2 separate regions of the Homo sapiens genome follow, and region 2 is linked to region 1. Evidence: fine-mapped expression QTL. A gene starts in region 1. The other region holds a variant in brackets. All regions are shown on one strand. Distances are between the middles of the regions. Region 1 holds the start of NCF1 (neutrophil cytosolic factor 1). Region 2 overlaps GTF2I (general transcription factor IIi).

Evidence for each region. PIP is the estimated chance that this variant, and not a neighbour inherited with it, causes the effect.
Region 2: its variant is fine-mapped to the expression of NCF1 in whole blood (INTERVAL, PIP 0.91).

Annotation. Positions count from the first base shown.
Region 1 is chr7:74,772,263-74,775,184 of GRCh38, reverse strand. NCF1 (neutrophil cytosolic factor 1) reads right to left here and starts at 1,174. Exons shown (of 11, transcript NM_000265.7): 1 at 1,082-1,174. The coding sequence starts at 1,153. RefSeq lists an enhancer at 2,348-2,893.
Region 2 is chr7:74,710,493-74,713,414 of GRCh38, reverse strand. It overlaps GTF2I (general transcription factor IIi), which reads right to left. Exons shown (of 35, transcript NM_032999.4): 9 at 2,306-2,383. The region is part of intron 2 of GTF2I-AS1 (GTF2I antisense RNA 1); the gene reads left to right. Among named protein-coding and RNA genes, the nearest start is that of GTF2I-AS1, 17 kb to the left of the region's middle. The variant G/A (reference allele first, on the strand shown) is at 1,712.

The sequences.
Region 1 (2,922 bases):
TAAAAACTAGCCAGGCATGGTGGTGTGCGCCTGTAGCCCCAGCTACTCAAGGGGCTGAGGCAGGAGGATCACTTGGGCCTGGGAGGTCGAGGCTGCAGTGAACTATGATCGCACCACTGCACTCCAGACCTCATTTCAAAAAAACAGGCCAGGCACGGTGGCTCATGCCTGTAATCCCAGCACTTTGGGAGGCCCAGGTGGGTGGATCACTTGAGGTCAGGAGTTTGAGACCAGTCTGGCCAACATGGTGAAACCCTGTCTCTACTAAAAATACAAAAATTAGCCAGGCGTGGTGGTGGGCACCTGTAATCCCAACTACTCTGGAGGCTGAGGCAGGAGAACCAGTTGAACCTGGAAGGCGGAGGTTGCAGTGAGCTGAGATCGTGCCACTGCACTCTGGCCTGGGCAACAGATCAAGACTCTGTCTCAAAAAACAAAAAAATAACAAAAAAGAGAAAGGTCTTGGCACATAGGACTAAATGTTCCATACAAGCTTCAATTTCCTAAATGTAGTTCCTCCCTGGCCTTCCTATGGGATTAGGGGACCCAGTGGACTTGTGTGTCTGAGCAGGCATTTGTCCAGCCTCCTTGGGGACAGATGGGAGGACTCTATTGGCCCCTGTCATGGTGTCACCCTACTGGAGAGGATAAGACTCTAACTGACACTACAGGCAGCTGGGGAGAGAGAGAGCTTTAGTTTCCAGGCCTCCCTCTTGGGAGGGCCACTCTCTGATAGCTGGGCTAGTCAGGGAAGGCTTCCTGGAGGAGTGGGCCTCGGACCTGAGAGAGCGCTGGGCTGCCTGGCCATGGCAGGGGAGCAGAAAGAGGACTCCTGGCTAAGGCTGAGGGCCTGGCTGGGGACACAGGCGGGGACAGTAAAGGGCTGGGGCCCAGGGCGGGTCCAAGGGAACTGTCTTCCCAGGGATCAGAGGGGTAGATCCAGGCTCAAAGACCAGGGACCAGGTGCCCAAGACCCTGCCCCGTTAGTCCTCACTGGAGCTGGTTGGCCCTGGGACTGCAAGGGTGGCCGTGCTGTCCCTCCCGTATTCCCCCCACGGGATGCCCTCCACCAGCTACTCACATAGTGCTGGCTGGGTACGAAGCGCTTCTCAAAGCCCAGCAGGGCGATGTGACGGATGAAGGTGTCCCCCATGACTGGGTGGCCTCCAGTGCTCCCTGGCACTTCCAGGCTGCGCCTTAAATGCACTGGAAAGAGGAAGTCGCTTTTGTCGCGGTCGGGACAGGGGGCAGGGAGGGTACAGAAAGGGCTTTGCTTCTTCTTTCAGTTTCTGGGGACTCTTCAGGCTTGCAGGGTGTAAACATGGGCAGACTCATGTTCACACACACCTGCAGGGACAAGGAAAAGGGTTTACACTTGTCCTTCCCGTCGCCTGCACGGGCCCCACGGGTTTTGGGGGTGAATCAAGCTGCTCCTGCCTCAGGGCCTTTGCATTTGCTGCGTCCCCTTGACCATCTTTCCCCCCTTGACCATATTCCTGGTCTTGACCATGTTCCCCCCATTCACCATCTTCCCTCCATAACTCTCCTCCATTTCTCTGCTCAAATGTCACCTCTTCCGAGAAGCCTTCCTTGATAACTTCACATTGCATAGCAAACCTCATACCTTTCTCAGCCTCTTCCTGCCTCCTTTTTCTGCAGAGCACTTATCACTGATGCATCGCAAATTGCATTTAATTTTTCTTTATTATTATTGCTATTGTTATTTGAGACAGGGTCTTGCTTTGTTATCCAGGCTTAAGTGCAGTGGTGGGATCACAGTTCACTGCAGCCTCCAACTCCTGGGCTCCAGCGATCCTCCTGCCTCAGCCTCTGGAGTAGCTGGGACTACGGGTGTGTGCCACCATGCCCGGTTAAATTTTTTTTAATTTTTTTGTACAGACAGGGTCCTGCTATGTTGCCCAGGATGGTCTCAAACTACTGGCCTCTAGTGATCCTCCTGCCTCTGCCTCCCACTTTTTTTTTTTTGAGATGGAGTCTCGCTCTTGTTTCCCAGGCTGGAGTGCAATGGCGCGATCTCGGCTCACCGCAACCTCTGCCTCCTGGGTTCAAGCAATTCTCTTGCGTTAGTCTCCTGAGTAGCTGGGATTACAGGCATGTGCCACCACACCTGGTTAATTTTTTTTTTTTTTAATTAGAGACTGGGTTTCTCCATGTTGGCCAGGCTGGTCTTGAACTCCTGACCTCAGGTAATTCACTCGCCTCGGCCTCCCAAAGTGCTGGGATTCAGGCATGAGCCACCGTGCCTGGCCTGACTTAATTTTTTTAGTCTCCCCTTACCACAATGTGTGTCCCAGGAAAGCTAGGGCATGACCGGGTTATCAGGGGCTCTAGCCCCAGCCCCTCCATCTAGTGCCTGGCACACAGAGGCCATAAATATTTGGATCGTGACTGCAACATTCACTGAGTGAATGAATGAGTGAGTGAATGAATGAATGAGTCAATGAATGAGTGAATGAATGAATGAATGAGTGAATGAACGCGGGCATGGGAGTGTGCATGCAAGCGTTAGATGCTCATCCTTGGGTGTGTGTGGATGAGGGCCAGTGACAGCTGGGACGAAAATGGCACAGACTTTGAGTGAGACTTGAGTTCCAATCCTCAAGTAAGCAAATGGTTCATTGAATTGTTCCTTAGGGCTGACTCAGTTTTCTCCAGAGTGATATTAAGACTGTCAGCTTTGCCAGGAAGGGGATTTGGGACAAAGAGGTGAGGAGGGGGCAGCATGCCCAGGGACAGGCTGAGGCCTCTCTCTCCCACTCCCCCTAGAGCCTGGGAGGCCCAGAGCTTTTGGAGCTCATTCAAGGTCATGAGTTCATGAGTGGCGGGCCTCAGCCCCAGGCAGCCTGCTGCAGCCTGTGCCTCCCAGCAGGCCAGGGCTGCACCAACTCACCCTTGCCTGAG
Region 2 (2,922 bases), 62 kb after region 1:
GTATTCATCAGCTAGACGTATATCATTGGTTAAAATCTCCCACATGACTGTACATATCTATAGAGACTTATAATTTGTAAATAATTTTTACTTTTACTGTGAGGATACATAGTTAGGCACATACAAACTAATGGTTGTTATATCAACTTAGTGACCAATTCCTTTAAATACGACATAGTCTTATTCTATCCTGCTACTACTGTTTTTGGCTTCCAATATTGCTAAACTATATTTTTTTTAGTTGGTATTTACTCAAAATACCTTCACGTATCACTATACTTTCAAATTATTTTAATGTCCCATATTTGAATTTTATTCACCCTAAAAATGGTACTTGATTTTATTCACCCTAAAACATACTTAACCTCCACCTCTCAAATGCTTGAGGTGCCTACCACTCATTGAGAAAATCAACACATTCCCAACACTCACATTTGAATGTCACTATTTTACAGGAGCACTGAGGTGCACAGAGAAATATATCCAAGCCTATTTTGGAATACAAAAGTTTTAGAAGAAAACATCAATGTCTTTATGTAGAAGAACGAAAAAACGAACTGTATTATAATCACACAGTGTAACTACCATGATGACATGATTAAATCTACTTGTGACAAAACAGATAAATCCCAGCTGAGGCAGAGAATTGCTTGAACCCGGCAAGCGGAGGTTGCAATGAGCCGAGATCTCACCACTGCACTCCAGCTTGGGCGACAGAGCAAAAATCCATCCCCACCCCCACGCCAAAAAAAAAAAAAAAAAGATAAATCTTGAAAACTTAAATTGAGTGACAGACTATACTCAACAACACATACAGTGTACCACTGTGTAAGCTTCACTCAGGAAGTGGCATATATAAAACAATAAATATGACATGACACACACACACACACACACACACACACACACACACACACACACACACACTCCCGGGAGAATATTTACGTAGTAAAGCACATCACCATCAGGAAGGACAATTCTCAGTTTTCAAGATCATGGTTAACTTAAGAATAGAGAGAAAAGTGGGGATTTGGGGGAGCCCAAAGAAAGGCTTCAATGAAATAGTTACACGTTGTTTCTTGGAGGGAGGAGAGAAGAGACAAATACTATGGTTCACTAAACCTGGGCAGACTGATACTATGCTTTTAGGTTTTAAATATTTCATTTTAAAAAAGCGTGTTAGCCCCTGTAATCCCAGTACTTTGGGAGGCCAAGGCGGGTGGATCACCTGAGGTCAGGAGCTCGAGACCAGCCTGGCCAACATGGTGAAACCCTGTGTCTACTAAAAAACACAAAAATTAGCCAGGTGTGTTGGCACACACCTGCTATCCCAGCTATTCGGGAGGCTGAGGCAGAAGAATCACCTCAACCTGGGAGGTGGAGGTTGCAGTGAGCCAAGATCGCGCCACTGCACTCCAGCCTGGGCAACAGAGTGAGACTCTGTCTCAAAAAAAAAAAAAAAAAAGAGAGAAATGAAGGCCTATGTCCACACAAAAGCCTCTACACAATGTTCATAGTACCTCTATTTGTAATGGCCCCAAACTGGAAGAACCCAAATGGCTATCAACAGACAAAGAAATGAATAAATTTTGACTCAGGCATACAATAGAATACAAATCAACAATCAAATGGAATCTACTACTGATACGTGCAACGCTGTGGATGAATTTCAAAACAATCATTTGAAATGAAAGAAGCCACACTGCTCCCC[G/A]GCCCATGAAAATAGTCCACATTTTATTATTTCATTCATAAGACTTTATAGAAAATGCAAACTAACCTAAAACAGAAAACAGATCCGTGTTGCCTGAATACTGGGCAGGGCAATGAATAACAAGGGGACACAGGAAACTTTTGGGGTTATAGATATTTCATTATCTTGGATGCAATGAAGATGGTGTATTAGATATGTAGATGGCAAAGCTAACCAGATTTTTTACTTTAAGTGTTTAATATACTATAATTATGCAGTGAGAAAAAATTAAGCTGACATTATCTGCATTTGCCTAATAGGTTTGTTTTATTTTGCAACACTAGAACCTGGGATTGAATTCTAAATTGTGCCACAACTTTTGCTCATCCTTTTAAGAACACAAATGGCTATTTTACATATCCCCTCTGGATTGTCTGAGTTGATCTTTTAGCCCCATTTTTAAATGTTTTATCCCCGGGACTGAATTACAATATATATGTCAATCAAGAACTGATCAATAAAATATTATTTAAGAAATTAAAGCAATTGATGAGCAAATTTTAATTTTAACCACGAATAATTTTTAGAAAGAAAAATTGCATTAATTCAAATTACCTTGAATGTTATATTGATAATAATCAGGATCTTCTGATTCTTCCTTTACTGTCACAGCTGCCATTTCCAGGGAAATGCCTAGAAAAGCAAATGCAATGATATGATTGCATGTGAGAACTTTCAGCTAGATTGTGTAGGGAAATCCTCTCTGCCCTCCCTATAAATACAGCAATGCATATTTATTTTAAGTAAAGACTTTACGTCTTTGAAAAGACAAAAGTTTGCTAGGTAGCAGAAGGTAAAAAATCACTATAATCCCAGCCAATGCAAAGTTTTAACCATTTATTAATATTCTGCAATTATGTGCTGCTCTTTTCTCCAGCAAATTCTTATCTTTAGAATCAAAGAAAATTTTACCACACTCCCTTTTCACTTAATATTAAAAATACTTTTATAAACCATTGAAACACACTTATAAACATCAGTTTTAATAACTCAGTATTCCAAAGGAGAGATAGCATAATGGTCAACAATTTCAATAATGAGATACATTGGTTTTTTTCTGCCTAATACATCCCTTTTATTACAGGGATTTGTGTAAGGGTACAAAGCACACCTTTCTGCATAAAGCTTTGCCCACAATTAGGACAGATGATTTGAAGCAGACCTTTGTGGCC